Homo sapiens: one gene and its partners. The protein of the gene in region 2 interacts with the protein of the main gene of each other region in a pairwise test. Each region holds a gene or a part of one and is shown on either strand. Other genes may lie near its edges. The genes, in order: CFH, RSPH1, CORO2B, ZBTB5 and CLSTN3.

Evidence for each region.
Region 1: the proteins of RSPH1 (region 2) and CFH interact in a two-hybrid assay, tested with the Homo sapiens proteins (one large-scale study listed by BioGRID and IntAct).
Region 3: the proteins of RSPH1 (region 2) and CORO2B interact in a two-hybrid assay, tested with the Homo sapiens proteins (one large-scale study listed by BioGRID and IntAct).
Region 4: the proteins of RSPH1 (region 2) and ZBTB5 interact in a two-hybrid assay, tested with the Homo sapiens proteins (one large-scale study listed by BioGRID and IntAct).
Region 5: the proteins of RSPH1 (region 2) and CLSTN3 interact in a two-hybrid assay, tested with the Homo sapiens proteins (one large-scale study listed by BioGRID and IntAct).

What each region holds. Positions count from the first base shown.
Region 1 is NC_000001.11:196,658,181-196,662,319, forward strand, and holds part of CFH (complement factor H isoform a precursor), read left to right. Parts: intron 1-4,139. UniProt on the Homo sapiens protein: Glycoprotein that plays an essential role in maintaining a well-balanced immune response by modulating complement activation.
Region 2 is NC_000021.9:42,478,586-42,482,724, forward strand, and holds part of RSPH1 (radial spoke head 1 homolog), read right to left. Parts: intron 4,124-4,139; coding exon 4,052-4,123; intron 1-4,051.
Region 3 is NC_000015.10:68,721,482-68,725,277, forward strand, and holds part of CORO2B (coronin-2B), read left to right. Parts: intron 1-3,796. UniProt on the Homo sapiens protein: May play a role in the reorganization of neuronal actin structure.
Region 4 is NC_000009.12:37,455,321-37,459,459, reverse strand, and holds part of ZBTB5 (zinc finger and BTB domain-containing protein 5), read left to right. Parts: intron 1-4,139. UniProt on the Homo sapiens protein: May be involved in transcriptional regulation.
Region 5 is NC_000012.12:7,132,968-7,137,106, forward strand, and holds part of CLSTN3 (calsyntenin-3 precursor), read left to right. Parts: intron 1-56; coding exon 57-179; intron 180-605; coding exon 606-801; intron 802-2,359; coding exon 2,360-2,568; intron 2,569-2,836; coding exon 2,837-2,986; intron 2,987-3,238; coding exon 3,239-3,424; intron 3,425-3,861; coding exon 3,862-4,139. UniProt on the Homo sapiens protein: Postsynaptic adhesion molecule that binds to presynaptic neurexins to mediate both excitatory and inhibitory synapse formation.

The DNA of each region.
Region 1 (4,139 bases), on a different chromosome or scaffold from region 2:
TTTACCAGTAGTTAAACGTATTCACACTCTTAATTCATGGGCTAAAAAAAAACTTGATTTTGTTTAGTATTATTCTTACTTTTTTGAGACAGGGAATCACTTTGTCACCCAGGCTGCAGCGTACTGGTGCAATCATGGCTCACTGCAGCCTCGACCTCCTGGGCTCAAGCAGTCCTCCCACCTAAGCATCCCAAGTAGCAGGGATTACAGCCACCTTGCTCAGGTAATTTTTTTTTTTTTTTTTTTTTTGAGATGGAGTCTTGCTCTGTCGCCCAGGCTGGAGTGCAGTGTCGCTATCTCGGCTCACTGCAAGCTCCGCCTCCCGGGTTCACGCCATTCTCCTGCCTCAGCCTCCCGAGTAGCTGGGACTACAGGCACCCACCACCAAGCCCGGCTATTTTTTTGTATTTGTAGTAGAGACGGAGTTTCACCGTGTTAGTGTTAGTCAGGATGGTCTGGATCTCCTGACCTCGTGATCTGGTGATCTGCCGGCCTTGGCCTCCCAAAGTGCTGGGATTACAGGCATGAGCCACCGCGCCCGGCCTGCTCAGGTAATTTTTAAAATTTTTTGTAGAGACAGGGTTTCACCACGTTGCCCAGGCTGGTCTTGAACTCCTGGGGTCTATTGATCCTCTTGACTTGGCATGTCAAAGTGCTGGGATTATAAGCATGACCCACTGCATCCAGACTAAAACTAATTTTAAATTGTAAAATAAAGCCAAATGAATTAAAGCTTCACCAATGTAGTGTTTTGTAAACAAAATTAACTGGCAATTAAATGACTTGTAAACGTAAGATGAAGTATTCATTGTTTAAACTCAAATACTTAGATATGATGGCTTAGTCTACTCATTAATCTAGAATGAGAAAAATGAGATGGCTATTTCTTTTAGTTTTAAGATAAATCACATCTCAAAAAAATGTTTCTGTGCCTTTCAATTTGTATGCATCCTATTTAATAAGCCCGTTGTACATACATGCTGAGAGTTTGACTACTTGGGCCAAAATAACCGTTTGTTGTCTACTTGAAGGTGGTTCAACTGAGCTTGAACATTCGATTGTTAGTCAATTCAGGCAAATAAAAGTTATGTCACAAGATATACCTAATTATTATTAGAACTCAGTGCAGTGAATCATTACCTTAAATACTTTTGCTATGGCATGAGTTGATAATGATGTAGGACAGCAAGCCCCCAAATTGGGTCTTAGCCTGGGAAGGTTCTTGGTTTTGTCCAGTAAAGAATTCAAGGGTGAGCCTGTGGTGTTAAACAGCAATTTTTGTTGAAGTGGCAGTGTATAGCAGCCTCAGAGGCACCTCTCCTTGCTAAGCAGGGCTACCCATAGGCAGTGTGCCCACAGTAGCAGCTCAGAGGCAGTTCTGCACTCATATTTATATGCACTTTTAATTATATGGAAATTAAGAGGTAGTTAATGCTGAAATTGCCAGGAGGAGGATGGTAACTTCCGGTTGTTGGGTCATTGCTGTGGAAAGGGCCTGTAACTTCTGGGTGTTGCCATGGTAATGGTAAACTGTCATAGCACACTGGTCTGTGTGTCTTACAGGGAGGGGCTTCCACTCAGACCTGTTTTGGATAATCCTCAATTTGGTCCAGTGTCCAAGTCCCATCTCCTATCTCAATAATACTCAATACAATAATGGTTAGAACAAAAGCAGACAGGAAAGTGTATCTGAAGTGAGAAGACCTAGACATTAATGAAAATTCTTCCACGAACTATGAAAAACATTGTTCTTCAATTGTGGGGAGCTTACATTTTGATGTGGGGAGATAGATAGAAAACCTAATGAACAAAAATAGTTATAGCATTGTGAAAAATTTTGTGAAGGAGGTAAAGTAGGGCCTAAGAGAAAATAGAGATGGGGATGGTAGTATGTAGAGACATTAGGTGGGCTTGGTCTTGGGGACTAGAATGAGTGGATCACTTTGAGGACAGAACATTTGAGTAGAGGCCTGAAAGATGAGACAAAGCCAGTCATCAGAAATCTGTCGTAAAATTATTCTAAGAGGAGGAAATAACCCGTGTAAAGGATCTAAGGAAAAAATAAGTTTGAAATGCTCAACAAAATATAAACAAATAAATCAGCGTGACTTTGCACAGTAAATACATGGGAGATTTAACATGATGAGATCCGAGAAAGTGGCAAGAGCCAGATAAGGGGTTCCCAAACCAAGGAAAGGAGTTAGCAATGCTGGATAAGTAAAAAGTGAAGTCATAGAAGAATTTTAATCACAGGAATGACATGACCAGATTTGCAAGAATCACTTGTCACTCTGTGAATAGACTGAAGTAACAGGAGAGTAGAGGACTGGAGGCTAGTTAGCAGGCAAGTTTCATGACCAAAGTGACAGATGATGATCTGAACTAAGATTTTGAAGATGGTAGTAGGAGCAAGGGAAAATAGAACAGGGGCGGTCATATCTTTTTCTTACAAGCAGAATCAAAAGATGCCATTTAACACTGATGGAAAAAGCACCAGAATTTTAAGTACTATTTGAAGAGAAAAGGTAATCAATATGATAATTCTTTATATATAGTAAACATATTCACAGAGTAAATATTGTGAGAAGTTGGTAGGAAGATTTTGTGGAAGAGATGTATCCTTGTTTTCTACATCTGGTTGTTAAAAGCAATGAACTATATTTGGAAATCAAGAATTAGGGGCACAAACGTATCACCTGGAAATATAATAATAACCAGAAGGGAAAGCATTTACTTCTCACTAGGAAGTGAGCGGGCTAAACTTTTTTTGTGTTAATGGATTACTTTACTTATTTATTTTTTCCAATAACCTGAACATCATCAAATGGATCTAAATTTTGAAAGTGAAAAACAAACATATCAGCTTGTAATTAATCAGTTTTCCTTTTGTGCGGAAGGGGCCGGGGATTGTGTTGTTATGATAGAGTATTAGCACCATCTAGTGGAGTAGAATATGTTTACTTAAATTATAAACATCGAAATAGTGCAATGTGGAATCACATATTATATGAGTTCACTAATACAAATTTGCAAAAAGGTCAAGGGAAAATTAGTGCCCATAAAAACTTTCACATTATTTTGTAAAATATAATTTTATATGGTGTTTTCTTTCTTATGAAATATTGCAAAATGTTTTCATATGGATTTGTTCCACCATGTTAATGGGCACTTCTAAAACTTTTTTCTTTGGGCTGCTACAACAAAATATTATTAACTGCCTAGCTTATAAACAACAGGAATGTATTTCTTACACTTCTGAATGCTAGAAAGTCTAACAGCAAGATAGTACCAGCAGATTCAGTGTTTGGTGAGGTCTGCTCTCTGGTTCATAGACAGTGCCTTTTGGCTGTGTCCTCCAATGATGAAAGGGACAAGGCAGCTCTGTGGTGCCTCTTCTATAAAGGCACACATCCCAAATCATGACAGCTCCACCTTCACGACCTAATCACTTCCCAGTGTCCCCACCTCCTAATACTATCACATTGGTAATTAGGTTTAAACATATAAATTGGGGGTTGTGGGGAGGTTGCATGTATTCAGAGCATAGCATATGCCTTCTTAACTTACTAAAGTCTAATAATAATTTATCACTCAGGATTCAATGCGGGAAGCTTAAGTAGAAGTAGAAGATTACCTATCTATCAGTCAATTAATTGATTGACATACCAATCTCCTATCTACCTACTTAAAAAGAGGTTTTGTTTTGTTTGTTTTGTTTTGTTTTGTTTTTTAAATAAATTGCCTCAAGGAATTGTGAGCATGAGATAAGCAAGTCTGAAATCCACAGGGCAGGTAGTCAGAAAAGGAAGATTACAGACAGGATGGAACTCACAGGAAAGGAAGCTGCTTTCCACAGAATTCCCTCTCTTTTTCAGAGGAGCCTCAGCCCTATGTTTCAGACCTTTCAAATGATTTGATCTGGCCTATCTAGATTACCTAGAATGATCAGCTTGTTTAAAGTCAACTGATTGGGAGTGTATCTGGCAACATATTTTCTCACCAACATTTAGATTAGTTTGACTCAATAACTGGGAATGCTGACTTAAGCAAGATGACTTATTAAGAAAACTGTCACAGCTCATTAATACCTTTCTGTTTTTCTGGACACTGTGAAGAACTTAAAAGACATTAATTTTATT
Region 2 (4,139 bases):
TCACATTGCTGGTGGGAACGTAAAATGCTGCAGCTACTGTAGAAAACATTTGACAGTTCTTCAAAAAGCGAAACAGCATCACCATATGACCCAGCAATTCCACTCCTCGGTATATAACCAAAGGAACTGAAAACAGAGATTCGACCAGATGCTTGCACACCAATGTTCACTGCAGCATTATTCATAATAGCTAAAATGTGGAAGCAACTCAATTGTCCATCAACAGACAAATGGATAAGCAAGAACCTTGAAAACGTCGTGCTAAATGAAAGAAGCCAGACACAAAAGGACAAATACAGAATGAATTCATCTATATGCGACATCTAGAATAGGCAAATTCATAGAGAAAGAAAGTAGATTAAAAGCTATCAGGGGCTGGGGGAGGTCGAATGGGGAGTTGTTGCTTAATAGGTACAGAGTTTCTGTCTGGGATAACGGACAAGCTCCAGAAATGCATCATTCTCACAGCTGCACAACACTGAACGTACTGAATGCCACTGAAAGCATGCTTTAAAATGGCAAATTTCAAACTCTATAAACGTACATATAAAACCATAATTTAAAAAGAAACAGGGAGTGAGCCGTGGGCTGCAGCTTGGCAAGCCCTACTCTAGAAGGGATACATTCCCCTTACTAGGGAGAGAGAACACGGAGGCCCTTCTGTTCCACCACCATCCTAATCCATCCCCACAGCACAGTGGGAGGCCTTCCACAAAGCCCTCAGGTTGTTGCTGCATTATTTCATGGGTGGTTTTTCCTAAACAGCAACAGGACTTGGGGCTTATATCAGTAATTCTCTCTTAGATGTTACTGATGCTCCTTCTACCTTCTTCTCATCATCCTGAAATACTGACTTCTAGGAACTTTTTCCAGTAGAGTCTAAAGCTGCAAAGCACTTAATAAGATGGGCTTTATTTTTATCACTACACAAATGTAAAAACTTGCTCAATCACCAGTAACCCTAAACAGTTATTACCAGTGCTGACAAGATATCAATTTAACCAATAGGTTCCTTCAGGGAACAGATGAGAGGTGTCCAACCCCATGGAAATCCCAGCAAAATACTAAATACCTCCCTGTCACAATCAAATCCTAAAGCCGACTGTCTTTCTTAGGCTTCTGACTATGTGTGTAGGAGGTTACACACACACACACACACACACACACACACACACATAAATGAAGTGGAACCTCGGGGGAGGACAGTATGTCAAATTCCTCTACGTTTTGTTAGATGCAGGTGACTTACAGGAAGCTGCCTTCCACCCAGACTAGAGCACCCTGCGGTCCATGAAGAATTCGTGCTCAGAGGAGGTAGGGCCTCTTACTTAGCAACAAAATCAAGCATTTTGGCCATTTCATTTTCTGGTTTTCTAGGGACCTGCCCCTAGCCAGTGGTTCCTTTTAGCTGGAGCAAAGCAGGAGAAGAGGCAAGGAAGACAGATCACTGTGAGGCCACACAGGATTCTGGTCAGCCAAGAAGGTGGACCATGAGCAACCATGGGCTGTTTGGGGAAACTAAATAACCATGGCCAGAGTGATGTGCAGAAAGTAGAATATCACAGGAGCGGGAATCAGGAAAAGAGGGTGGCTGAGGTCAGGGCCGAGAGCCCCGGGGATGTCCAGACTGTGGCCACTTGGGAAGCAGCAACGGAGCACGGACAGTCACTTGATCATGGGAGGTTAAGGGATAAAGATTCAAAGACTCCCTTTGGTTTTAGAATCTAACAAACTCTAGGAAGAAAAATGAGAAAAGTTAAAAAACTGTCTGGAGGGCTGGGCGCAGTGGCTTACGCCTATAGTCCCACCACTTTGGGAGGCTGAGGCAGTGGATCATCTGAGGTCGAAAGTTTGAGACCAGCCTGACCAATATGGAGAAACCCCGTCTCTACTAAAAATACAAAATTAGCTGGGCGTGGTGGCACATGCCTGTAATCCCAGCTACTCGGGAGGCTGAGACAGGAGAATCGCTTGAACCCGGGAGGTGGAGTTTGCGTTGAGCCGAGATCACGCCATTGCACTCCAGCCTGGGCAACAAGAGCGAAACTCCATCTCAAAAAAAAAAAAAAAAAAAAAAAAAACCTGTCTGGAGAGCATTGAAGAGCATTGAATTGAAAAATTAGTGATGAGTTTAGACTTAGGATTCAAGGCCAGGGCCCTTGGGGTGAAAGGATGGAGCATTAGGTAGAGACAGCAGTGGGCGGCACAGAGCAGGTGCGGGACAGGCCCTCATGCACAGGATCTCCCGCAGCCTTCCAAGCTCCCCACAGTGTGGCTTCTACCTCCTGTGACCAAGGATAGCTTTCCACAGCCTCACACCTGAGCCCAAGGTGACGAGGAGTCGGTTTAAAGCAGGGCCTCTGGGTGATGCCAAGGGCTTGACGAGGGACACAGCAACAAAAAAACAAAACGAGGTGACTTGGCTCAGGTTGTGACATAGTTTGGGTGTTTGTCCCCTTCAAATCGCATGTTGAAATGTGACCCCCGGGGTTGGAGGTGGGGCCTGGTGGGAGGTGTTTGGGTCACGGGGGCAGATCCCTCATGAATGGTTTGGTGCCTTCCCTGTGGTGATGAGTGAGTTCTTGCTCTATTAGTTCACACAAGAACTGGTTGTTAAAAATATATATATATATACCTGGCACCTCCTCCCCTCTTTTCCTCCTCTTTTGAGCTATGGTACCAGCTCCCCTTCACCTTCCATCATGAGTGGAAGCTTCCTGAGACCTCACCAGAGGCCAGGCAGTTGCGGGTGCCATGCTTCTTGTACAGCCTGCAGAACTGTGAACCAAATAAACCTCTCTTCTTTATAATCTACCCAGCTTCAGGAATTCCTTTATAGCAGCACAAAAAGGACTAACCCAGGTTGAAAGGGCATTGATGTGATGGTAGACCCAAACAAGCCGTTCCCCGGCTTTCTTCAGAAAGAAAGTATGCAGACATGGGAGAGTTTGTGTACGATAATATATTCTTAACTCACTAGGAGGGGACACCTCAACAACTTCAGAGACCAAAAAACAAACAAAAGCGTGATTCCACACTCCTCCTTAAAACTCAAAACTTCTTACAGTGAGAATGACCTCATCTAAACAAATAAGTCAAAAGGATCAAAACCAGTACCAGGGTCAGGAAATGTTGCTGAATTGCTAATTATCTAGAGGGATTGATCAGACATTAATAATGAGAGGAATAGGAACACATATATTCCCACCTCAACACACATACGCATCTCGATGCCTTATAACGGCAATATTAGCTGACTAGCTTTACTATTAACCAGGGAATGTCAATGTAGTGTTAATATTAATGTTAGATATTGGAAAGGAAAAAACAAGAGAAAGACTTACCAACGGCACGTTCAGAGGAGCATGCTGCACAACGGACAAGCTAACAGTCACTGGACAAACTGTGGCAACACCAGTTACAGATTCAGTTTTCACTTGCAGGACCTAACACTGTCTAGAACCCTCCCACTCAGGATTAGTTTTTTATTTATTGGTTGTTTGTTTGTTTGTTTTTGAGACAGAGTCTCACTCTGTCGCCCAGGCTGGAGTGCAGTGGCGTGATCTTGGCTCACTGCAAACTCCGCCGCCCAGGTTTAAGCGATTCTCCTGCCTCAGCCTCCTGAGTAGCTGGGATTACAGGCATGCGCCACCATGCCCAGCTAATTTTTGTATTTTTAGCGGAGACAGGGATTCATCACGTTGGCCAGTCTGGTCTCAAACTCCTGACCTAAAGCAATCCACCGCTTCGGCCTCCCAAAGTGCTGGGATTACAGGCGTGAGCCATTGTGCCCTGCCAGGATTAGTTTCTATCAACAAAAACGGTATCTATCAACAAAGTCTAGAGTTCTGCAATAAATGGGAAATGATATTGTTTGCTTCTGGCAATTTAGTTCTGTACTAACACATGCAGATAAGGAAAATGAAAATGTGAAAGTGCCTAAGAGTTGGCATAACTTTTAGGCGAATCACCTCCAACCTTGCAGGATCAATATTTTTGAGCAGCTACTTCCCTGTTAATGTAACAAAACCCTACATGCTCCGCAACTTACCATATCTGTTAAACGATATTCACCATGTTGTTCACACCCAACATCAAATACATACTTTCCAGGGCCAACAGGCTACGAGCAAAGAGAA
Region 3 (3,796 bases), on a different chromosome or scaffold from region 2:
GATCACCTGAGGTCAGGAGTTTGAGACCAGCCTGGTCAACATGGTGAAACCCTGTCTCTACTAAAAATACAAAAATTAGCCAGGCGTGGTGGTGCGCGCCTGTAATCCCAGCTGCTCAAGTGGCTGAGGCAGGAGAATCACTTGAACCCAGGAGGCAGAGACTAAAGCTGAGTGATGGGTACTTGGGGGTTCATGGTGCTATACTTTCTATTAATATAGATATATAACATTTTTCATTTAAAAAATTTTTAAGTGTTTTCTTGTATTTATTTATTTATGTTTTAGAGACAGAGTCCTGCCCTGTCTCCCAGACTGCAGTGCTGTGGCACGATCATAGCTCACTATAACCTCAATCTCCGAGGCTCAAGCAATAATCCCACCTTAGACTTCTGAGTAGCTGGAACTAGCGGCGTGTACCACCATACCCAACTAATTTGTTTTTAAACATTTTTGTAGAGACAGGGTCTTACTATATTGCACAGGCTGGTCTTAAACTCCTGGGCTCAAACAGTCCTCCCACTTTCGCCTCCCAATGTGCTGGGATTACAGTCATGAGACACTGCGCCCAGCTATTTTCTTGTTTTTAAAAGAACTCTACTCTTTGAAGATAGAGACACAGGGGTCATTGTGATAGCCCAGGAGGGCAATAACAAGGGCCTGAGCTCAGTTCTGGCACTGGGTCTGGAGAAGGCAGGGTTGAATAGTAGTTAAATCAAGCAATATTTCGCTGTAGACTTGCCTATGGAATCAGAATTGAGAACCTGGAGGAAAAGCTTAAAGGGTCTCAGAGCAGACAAAACAGATGCCACAATCTACACCAAAGTTGTGCATCTTCCTCGCTGGGAAGAAGCTTTCTCAAAGCCTGCTGACTCTGCCTTTATCCACAGTTTTAATCATCGTAGCAGTTCGGAAGCAGCCAGTTAGAAAGTGGGGCTGTCAAAGGTGGACGCATTGATCTAAGTGTGAGGAAACAACTGACAGCTTGATGCGAGGGAAAAGTCCTACGATTGTACAACTCAGGAACTTTACTAAAAATCGCTGAATTGTAAGCTTAAAATGAGTGACTTTTATGGTGTGTGAATTACACCTCACTAAAGCGGTTTTTTTGACAAAAGTGGACCAAAAAACAATGCAAAGAAATTTTGAGAACTTGGAAGACGCAAGAGTGTGTAGAGTCATTTAGTGCAAAGGCAAATAGCACGTCATCCCTCTCAACAGATGTAACTGGGACTGGTGGTTTGTTAGTTAACAAAAAATATTTTTTTAAGTTATATTTTTTTAAGTTAGTTAAAGGAGGCAATCATGGCTGGGCACGGTGGCTCACGCCTATAATCCCAGCACTTTGGGAGGCTGAGGCGGGAGGATTGCCTGAGGTTAAGAGTTCAAGACCAGCCTGACCAACATGGTGAAACCCTGTCTCTACTAAAAATACAAAATTAGCCAGGTGTGGTGGCGCACGCCTGTAATCCCAGCTACTCGGGAGGCTGAGGCAGGAGAATCACTTGAACCCAGGAGGCAGAGGTTGCAGTGAGCGGATATTGCACCATTGCACTCCAGCCTGGGCAACAAGAGTGAAACTCCGTCTCAAAAAAACAAAAACAAAAGGAGAGAATCATAAAAATGATACATACATTCTTTTTTTTTTTTTTTTTTTTTTTTAGACAGAGTCTTGCTCTGTCACCCAGGCTGGGGTACAATGGCACAATCTTGACTCACTGCAACCTCCACCTCCCGGGTTCAAGCAATTCTCCTGCCTTAGCCTCCCAAGTAGCTGGGACTACAGGTACCCACCACCATGCCTGGTTAATTTTTGCATTTTTAGTAGAGACAGGGTTTCACCATGTTGGCCAGGCTGGTCTTGAACTCCTGACCTCAGGTGATCCACCTGCCTCAGCCTCCCAAAGTGTTGGGCTTACAGGTGTGAGCCACGGCGCCCAGCCAATAGATACATTTGGTTTCTTTGTTGTTGTTGTTTTGTTTTGTTTTGTTTTGAGATGGAGTCTCACTTTGTCTCCCAGGCTGGAGTGCAGTGGCATGATCTCGGCTCACTGCAACCTCCACCTCCCGGGTTCAAGCAATTCTTTGCTTCAGCCTCCCGAGTAGCTGGGATTACAGGCACCTGCCACCACACCTGGCTAATTTTTATATTTTTAGTAGAGATGGGGTTTCACCATCTTGGCCAGACTGATCTTGAACTCCTGACCTCGTGATCCACCCACCTTGGCCTCCTAAAGTACTGGATTACAGGCGTGAGCCACCGTGCCCGGCCGATACCTTCTTTAAACCATTTATTTTTGTTTTAAACATAAAACATGCGAGGTGTAGTGGCACCCCTCTAGTCCCAGCTACTCAGGAGGCTCAGGTGGGAAGATCGCTTGAGCCCAGGAGTTTGAGTCCAGCCTGGGCAACATGGCAAGACTCTATCCCTAAAAAATAAAAGTAGGCCGGGGTGGTGGCTCACACCTGCAATCCCAGCACCTTGGGAGGCTGAGGGTGGATCACTTGAGGCCAGGAGTTCAAGACCAGCCTGGCCAACATGGTGAAACCCCGTCTCTACTAAAAATACAAAAATTAGCCGGGCGTGATGGCACACACCTGTAATCCCAGCTACTCCAGAGGCTGAAGCAGAAGAATACCTTGAACCCGGGAAGCGGAGGTTGCAGTGAGCCAAGATCGCGCCACTGCACTCCAGTCTGGGTGACAGAGCAAGACTCTGTCTCAAAAACAAACAAATAAATAAATAATAAAAATAAAACATATACATTCATTTAGCATATTTTGATGCAGGACCAGGACCTTTTCTTCAAGGAGGCCCTCCCTGGTTGGAATCTGCCATGTCTTTCACACAAATCACACCTTAACTCCCATTTCCAGTTTCCATTTCTTTTAGGTAGAAAAATAATTTAAAGTTCATCTGAAAGCAAAGTCCTAGTTTTTACAATGTTTTCTCTCATCTTTTTTTGAGACATTGAGGTATAATTTGCCTATGGTAAAATTCATCCTCTGTAGTGTGTCGGTTTAAGAGTTTTGACAAACACACACAGTCATGCAGCCACCATCAGCCAAGATATAGAATATTCTCCAGTCTTTTAGGGCTAGATCTTCCACACCCAATTCGGCCACAGTTTTTTTAGCATCATCTTTATCAAGATTTTCTAAAGCATTTAATTAAGTTTTTATAGAAACAACAACTCTCTTTTTGTGCTCATTTCATCAATTTATATTATATTTCATTAAATTATGCAATTACAATAACAAATGTAATTCACACCAGAAAGTTTGAGACCAAACACAATTGACTGTGGGTAACATTCAACTCAGGTGTGCAGGAGCCTCAAGGAGCCTGCTGCCTTCCAGGGCTCGGCGTTTTGTGGACATCTGTCAATATGCTTTACAGGAGAAATGGAGGCGGGTTAAGCTAGAGAGTCATTGGGGTGAAGATCTGCCAGGATAGCTGTACATGAATCCCTGACCAGTGCAAACTTTGGTATTCTTGTCATAGTTCCTCATCAGTAGGGAAAAAGCTAGATTCCATTCTGTATCCTGAGCCTCCTTAAGAAGAGAAGGATACAAAGCATTTTAGAAAGTTCTAAATTATCAGCACAAGCCGGGCATGGTAGCTTACACCTGTAATCCCAGCACTTTGGGAGGCTGAGGTGGGTGGATCTCTTGAGGTCAGGAGTTCGAGACCAGCCTGGCCAACATGGTGAAACCCAGTCTCTACTAAAAATACAAAAATTATCCAGGCATGGTGGCACATGCCTGTAATCCCAGCTACTCGGGAGGCTGAGGCAGG
Region 4 (4,139 bases), on a different chromosome or scaffold from region 2:
AGATAGAGTTTTGCTCTTGTTGCCCAGACTGGAGTACAGTGGTGCGATCTTGGCTCACTGCAACCTCTGCCTCCCAGGTTCAAGCGATTCTTCTGCCTCAGCCTCCCGAGTAGCTGGGATTACAGGCATGTGTCACCACGCCCCACCAATTTTTTGTATTTTTAGTAGAGACGGCTTTTCTCCATGTTGGTCAGGCTGGTCTCAAACTCCTGACCTCAGGTGATCCACCTGCCTTGGCCTCCCAAAGTGCTGGGAGTACAGGCTGAGAAGCAGGGGCTGGCATGCCCATGCCCTGTTTTACATTTTTTGTAAATCTCTTTAATATGTAGTTTAATAGAAGACAGCTGGATTCCATTAAATGCTTCTGCATTCATTTTGCCGTGATACACTATTTTGATTAAAATATACCAAAAAACTCCAGCATCACACAAATATGTAGTTGGAAAGGGAGGATTATTTCAGTAGATTTTTCAGATAATTTTGGATATTCTTACTCTGATACTGTACCAAAACTCCACAAGTGGTATTTTCTTAAGTGATTAGTGCAATGTGGAATCTGAAATTATGTCAATGAACTTTTCATATTCTGTTGCATTAAAATACATTAGCTTATGTTTTGTACCTTGAATGAATTTTTACCCATACCTTGTTTTATAGCATTATTGTTACATGGCTACATGGTCATTTGGAAAATACTGATTTCAGAGTTATGCAGATCTTCCAAACGTTGACTCATTTATTATACAATGTAAAAAAATCACATTTCATTAATATCACCAATGATCTGTCAGAAGAATTTGAGCATGTGGGAAGCTGTCAAGCTCACAGTGACAGATACAAGTTTTCCAAAATACTAATTTTCACCTGAATTCTCAAACTTTTTTATTGGCAATAAGTAGTACTAAGTTATCTTATTTAAAATAACAGGCTTGTTTCATTCATTTTTTCATTCATTTTCAAGAAAATGGTAAATACTTCTAAATAACCATAGTTTGTCATTCGTTCTTTCAAGTAAAAATAGTGTCCCATGAGAAAAGCAATTAGTTGAGCCACCTCAAAAACTGCACAAGTGCTTTTTCTTGAGGCAACTTGTATTTCAGAATGCAGGAGGAAAACTTCAGGTGTACTTCCCATTTTATCACACATATTGAAAACAGGTACTCAAGAGTTGAGACTTAATAACAGATGTAGGGAAGGGGAGGCTGGGTCTCCATTGGAGTGAGCATTTGGTTAGTAGTAGCTGTGTTCAGCACAGATGTTTGGCATTCTGACCTGATTGTTCCTGCTGCCTAGCTTAATTTCTTCCCAGTTCAATCTTACGTATCCAGCCTTCCCATCAATTCCATGATCAAACTAATAGCCTTTCAGTAAATTACTTTTATGTTTAGGATCAATTTTTGTTGCTGCAACCAATGACTCTGGCTGATGTGCTGCTTAAACTTAAGAAAAAAACCCTAAAATACTTTTTAAGAAAGTAATCTCAAAAGTGATGATAGCCTTTAGTTCAAAAGTATGTGCCTCATGGTTAACCTTTCTGATGACTTGTAATTATTAACATCAGTTATGAGCAGTCACTATCCAATACCTACCTTTCTAGCCATACTATTTTCCAGCCAAATCGAATACATTGCTTTACCCACCTCAACCCCTTCTCCACCTTTACCTCTGTCTAGGGGTTTGTCCAAATCCAACCAAGACCTAGCTCTGTTGTCAACGCTACCATGAAGCTAGAAATAACCTTTGCCTTCTCCAAACCATTGAGAGGTTCTTTCACCTCTTATGTGGCACTTAGTGCCTTCCACTTTGTAATATCGTTATTCATGTATATCTTATTTCCACTAAATACCTGTGACAGTTAGTACTGTCCCATACAAATCTATGCTCCACAGCGCTTAACCTTGAACAAGTAAGCACTTTAAAACATTAGATGATGCTGGCATGGTGGCTCACACTTGTAATCTCAGCACTTTGGGAGGCCAAGGTAGGAGGAATACCTGAGCCCAGGAGTTCGAGACCAGCCAGAGCAACATAGTGAGACCCGTCTCTACAAAGAATAAAAAATTAGCTGGGCATGGTGACGTGCCTGTAGTACCAGTATTTGGGAGGCTGTGGTGGGAGAGTCACTTGAGCTAGGGAAGTGGAGGCTACAGTGAGCTGTGATTGCACCACCACACTCCAGCCTGGGTGGCAAAGCAAGACTCTGTCTCAAAAACAAAACAAAACAAAAAACATATTACATGAATGAACTTGTATACAAAAAATACACAAGTACCTTTATGGGCTGTTGAGGTCCCTTGAGCTGTATACTACCTAGCTCCAAGCTGCTGGGCCTCTTTTCCCCCTTAGTGGGTCAGCTGTCTCTTTCTGCAGCTATCAGCTTAACTTCATTTAAGCAGCCACTCCTTGCTCTCATTCTGGAGTTGCTGCTTCAGTTAGTTAGGGAACTAGAAAAACTTGAATTTTGTTTCGAACAAAAGACTGTGTGAGGGCTTAAGGGACTTTCCTATGAGAAAATCTTTCATCCATAGTCTTTGATCTTTATTTTGGATATTCTGAGACTTTTTCTTCTGGTTTTTGGCTGATTTTAGAGATAGTTGTGATTCTCAGAAAAGTGATTTTTGGGTAATACATTATACTTCATCCATATATAGCAAAAGTTTATTCAGCAAATAATTTACTGAGTATTTTATGTCAGGCACTTTGAGAGAGAGAAAATACAGTTCCTGCCCTCAATAAGCTGTTTTAGTAGAAAAAGCATTTGAGCTTGTACTAGGAACCTAAGTAGGGCACTAATACCTTTTCTTATTCAAACTGAGTTACAGAGCTCTAGGTCAATTCATCCCTAGGGATTTTGGCCTGGAAAACAAGGTGGCAATGTGGAGAGAATTGGAGAGTTAGGTGAGATGGTCAGGGCTTCCAGCTCGCCTTCCTCAGTCATGCTCATCTTTAGTCACTAGTGGAATTTTCCTGTTTTATAGAACTAATCTGTTCAGTTTCTGAGCCAACCCTGACAGAGCAGAACCAGAGATATTATGACATTAGTCATGCTGACAGGTCTGGTTTCTTGGGGTTAACCCAGGCATCATTGTGCCCACCTAGTTCCAGCCTTCCCCTACTCCCACTTTGCTGGTCAAATTAGAACAATGGATGGATGTTCCAGTACTCCGCTCTGTCTGACTTGGAGCCCTGTCAAAATTCCTAGCCTGGGCCAGGTGGGTGGGTGGCTCACGGCTGTAATCCCAGCACTTTGGGAGGCTGAGGCAGGTGGATTGATTGAGCCCAGGAGTTTGAAACCAGCCTGGGCAACATGGCAAAACCCCCTATCTACAAAAAATACAAAAATTAGCCAGGCATGGTGACACGCACCTGTAGTCCCAGCTACCCAGGAGGCTGAGGTGGGAGGATCACCTTGAGCCTGGGAGGTCAAGGCTGCAGTGAACCGTGATCAGGCCACTGTACTCCAGCCTGAGTGAGAGAGTGAGATCCTGCCTCAAAAAAAGAAAAAAAAAAAAATCCTAGCCTGCACTTCCGGAGCCTGTGGTAGGAGGATTGCTTGAGCGCTGGAGTTCAAAAGCAGCCTGGGCATATTGAGACCCCACCTGTATTTAAAAAAAAAAAATCCTAGCCTACTTGAGTGGGTCCTTGCTTTGTTCTGCTCTCTGACTTTTGTTTTCATCTATATCGTCTCTACAAGTGGAGGAAATGTTCTGTCTAGTTATTTTTCTGCTGATGAAATGGGAGAGTTCTCTGAACCCCCCTCGCAGGACGTGTGACAATGATGTGGCTCGTCTGTTTGGCTGCCACCACTGCTAAAACCCTTTACAGGAGGAGGAGCACAGAGACAGGCAGGGGCAGGAGCTGGGGCAAGCTCTTTTAGGCTCTGGCCCCACGGTGGCATCTAGGGGTGGGTGCCTGCAGCTCCCGAAGCCCCATTGGGCATGCTACAGTGCTCTTTTAGCTTGCCATATGCAGATGGGTTAAGTGTTAACCAGCTCAGTACCTTCTTGGTATTTGGGTTCTTGTCCAGCATCCAGGAAGAATTGGGTCACACATGGACTTGAAGGATGGTGTATTCGGGATTTTATTGGATGATGGAGGTGGCTCTCAGTGGGATGGATGGGGAGCTGGAAAGGGGATGG
Region 5 (4,139 bases), on a different chromosome or scaffold from region 2:
GGGAGTAGAGGCCCTGCTCACAGGTGCTTCCTCTCCTCTCCCTGGGGTGGGGCCAGCCAACAAGCACAAGCCATGGATTGAGGCAGAGTACCAGGGCATCGTCATGGAGAATGACAACACGGTCCTACTGAATCCACCACTCTTTGCCTTGGACAAGGATGCCCCGCTGCGCTATGCAGGTAATTGGGATTGGGGGATGGCAAGGCAGGGTAGGACAGAGAAAAGTGGGTGGGAGGGCCAAGAGCAAGGGAGGGAGGGAAGGTCCTGGGAGTGATGAGAAAGTAAGGGAAGATAAAAGTGGGCTCAAGGAGGGGAATGGTCTCCACTGAAGAATGGAGATTGAGTCAAGGATGCCAGAAAAGGACATGGCCAGGCAAGGGTTAAACACATCATGATTTTGTCAGATCTCAGGTCTGGAGGCTCTGGGAGGTTGCTGCTCAGGGAAGCTGGGCTTAGAGTTGCGTGTTTGATCATTAATGCTTTTGTGCCTACAGGAGAAGGGACAGGGCTTTGGGAGGAGAGGTGGAGCTGGACCCCAGGTGGGGAGACTGAGGGTGGGGAAGGAGACACAGCAGCCTCACTCCTCCCCTTCTCCCCTTTGCCAGGTGAGATCTGCGGCTTCCGGCTCCATGGGTCTGGGGTGCCCTTTGAGGCTGTGATCCTTGACAAGGCGACAGGAGAGGGGCTGATCCGGGCCAAGGAGCCTGTGGACTGCGAGGCCCAGAAGGAACACACCTTCACCATCCAGGCCTATGACTGTGGCGAGGGCCCCGACGGGGCCAACACCAAGAAGTCCCACAAGTGAGGAAGTCCTTGTCTCCTGCCCCATGTGTTGCAGGGTCCTCCTCCCTGCTCCCAAGCCCACCATCCTCTGTCCGTGCGGTCATCGAATATCCACCCCCACCCGCTGCTGTTCCTAGGACTTAGGGAGCCCCATCCCCTGCTGTTCCTAGGATTTAGGGACTTTCAGGCAAGGTGACAGAAACGTATAGTAGAGTTCAGTGGATCTAATCTTGGCTTTGCCTCTCATGACCTTGGGCAGCCTAGCCTTTCTGGACTTGCTTTTCCTTATCTGTAGAATGGAGATTGTGATGACACCTACTTCATAAGGCTGCTGTGAAGATTCAAGGAGATGGTTTGTGTTGAAAGCATGCACCACAGTGCCTGATACACGTTGAAGGGCACAGTACATGGGCATAATGATGAGGAGGAGAGCAAGAAGGAAGAGGATGAACACACTCAGCATGCATCCAGTTCCCTTTCAACTGCCCCCTCCAGTCTATTTGCAGTGTATACCACACACACGATCCCTATCATACACATATAGCTCTAGGTGAGGGTGGGCAGGCGATGGTTGTAGCAAGAAAGAGGCTCGGGTCTGGGACACCTACGCTTGTTGCCAGCTAACTTCTTATTTGAGAATAAGAGAAAGATCTTCAGTCAGGATTCCTGAGCCACTAAGAGGCACTAGAGATAAAATGCTCTTTGTGACTCAGTTTCCCATTTGAAGATAGGACCCTTGCCTCTGGGGCCTGGGAGCCTGGGTCTTGGCCTGGGGCAGGGCTCAGCATGAAGGGCCTCGACCCAGCTCTGCTTGCCCCGGTGCATGACTAGGGAGGGGCCGCATGTGCGGGAGGCAGCACTGCCCACACGTACTGTGCAGACATGTCAGATGACTTGTGACCTTTGTACACATGCCATTTCCCTTCTTATGGCTGGTTTTAATTTGGCTTTTACTCTGCATCTTCCTTGCTTATCCCCCCGGATCTGACTGTTGTGAAGGAAGGCCCTGCTGGATTTTATGCCTTACCCCTCCTCTTGGCACCCTGACCCATAGCATTTTGCACAGAAGTCATCAAAATCAGCTCCTGAGCACCCCTGGGCCTTGTTCCTCATCCCCTACATCAGTCCTCCTTTCTTTGGGCCCTCCCTCTGGTGTTGTCCTCTCCCTGGCATGACTTTGATGCAGCTTGGTGCCCTGTGGGGTGGGGAGGAGCGTGCTGACTGCCTCAGTCTCAGGGATAGATGGGCAGGCTCCCTCCTGTTCTGGCTCTCCGTCGGGATTCCTGCTTGCTCCTTTCTGGCATATGGGTGTACCGTGTCGAGGCTGTACCTTGGTGTACAGTATAAGGCTGTATCTCGTTGTGCCCATATTGAGGCTGTTTGTTGGTGTACAGTATTGAGGCTGTATCTTGGTGTACGGTATCGAACCTGTCCCTCCATGTGCCGTATCAAGGCTGTATCTTGATGTACCGTATCGAGGCTGTACCTCGGTGTGCTGTATCAAGGCTGTATCTCAATGTATAATGTCGAGGCTGGCTGACGTGTCTTCATCCCTCCTTCTCTCTGGCATATGCAGGGCCACTGTGCATGTGCGGGTCAACGATGTGAACGAGTTTGCCCCAGTGTTTGTGGAACGGCTGTATCGTGCGGCTGTGACAGAGGGGAAGCTGTACGATCGCATCCTGCGGGTGGAAGCCATTGACGGTGACTGCTCCCCCCAGTACAGCCAGATCTGCTACTATGAGATTCTCACACCCAACACCCCTTTCCTCATTGACAATGACGGTGAGTCCACCCCTGGCTTCCCTGGCCACCCAGTTCCCCTTGAGCACCCACCTCCCTCAGGACAACCCAGGGTTGCATTCTCCACTTTTGCCCCTCAGACCCTCACCTCACCCTTCTTCCCAAATGGAGCCTTCTCCTCCCAGATGCCTTTTTTCCCAGCGTCCTGCTGCCTAACCTGCCTGCTGCCCGATGATCTCAGACATCCTCCCCTCCCTGCCCTGGGCTTTCTCCAATGCTCTAATGCTCTGTCCTCCTGACCCCACCCCAGGGAACATTGAGAACACAGAGAAGCTGCAGTACAGTGGTGAGAGGCTCTATAAGTTTACAGTGACAGCTTATGACTGTGGGAAGAAGCGGGCAGCAGATGATGCTGAGGTGGAGATTCAGGTGAAGCCCACCTGTAAACCCAGCTGGCAAGGTGAGAGCTCAGCGCTGTGCCCCATCTTGTGAATCATCTTTTTTCTTGGTCTCTCTTTCTGTCCTTTCTGACAATCATGGGGGCCAGGCTAGGGCTTGGATGATATTGGGGCAGGCTTGCAGCTATCTACTCTAGCCGGGCCATCCTGCCAGGAGCCCCAAACTGTCCATGGACATGGCAAGAGGAGCATGGAGAGGGGAGGCTGCTTTACCCTTCTCTCTCCCCATCACCCTCTCTGTCTCACCCATGCAGGCTGGAACAAAAGGATCGAATATGCACCAGGTGCTGGGAGCTTGGCTTTGTTCCCTGGTATCCGCCTGGAGACCTGTGATGAACCACTCTGGAACATTCAGGCCACCATAGAGCTGCAGACCAGCCATGTGGCCAAGGGCTGTGACCGTGACAACTACTCAGAGCGGGCGCTGCGGAAACTCTGTGGTAGGTGTGCCCCCAACACTGCCTCAGGCCTATCCCTTCCCATCCAACCTCTGTCCAAACTTTTCCAAGACTCTGCTTTACATCACCACTGGCCATCCACAGGTGTTTATCCATAGAGGTTGTGACACGATTAGCATTTGCGGCCCAAAAGGCAGGTACATATGTCTTTGGCAAAGATGCATAGTCATCGCACCAGACAGTCACCGGATGCATGGTGGAACAATGGTAGGGCGAGATGAAGAGTTGGAGAATGGGTTAACTGGAGAGATACTCTTAGAAGTGAGTTCATCCCTCTCTTGTCTTTGAAAGGCCATAAAAGGTGGCAAGACGTGCTGTAGGAAATCTTTTCCCATCAGTCCCTCTTTCCCTGCCTCCTGCCCTTTTCACCATCTGCTGCTTCTTGGCTCTGACACTTGTGCCTCCTGGGGCTCCCACAGGTGCTGCCACTGGGGAGGTGGATCTGTTGCCCATGCCTGGCCCCAATGCCAACTGGACAGCAGGACTCTCGGTGCACTACAGCCAGGACAGCAGCCTGATCTACTGGTTCAATGGCACCCAGGCTGTGCAGGTGCCCCTGGGTGGCCCCAGTGGGCTGGGCTCTGGGCCCCAGGACAGCCTCAGTGACCACTTCACCCTGTCCTTCTGGATGAAGCATGGCGTAACTCCCAACAAGGGCAAGAAGGAAGAGGAAACCATCGTATGTAACACTGTCCAG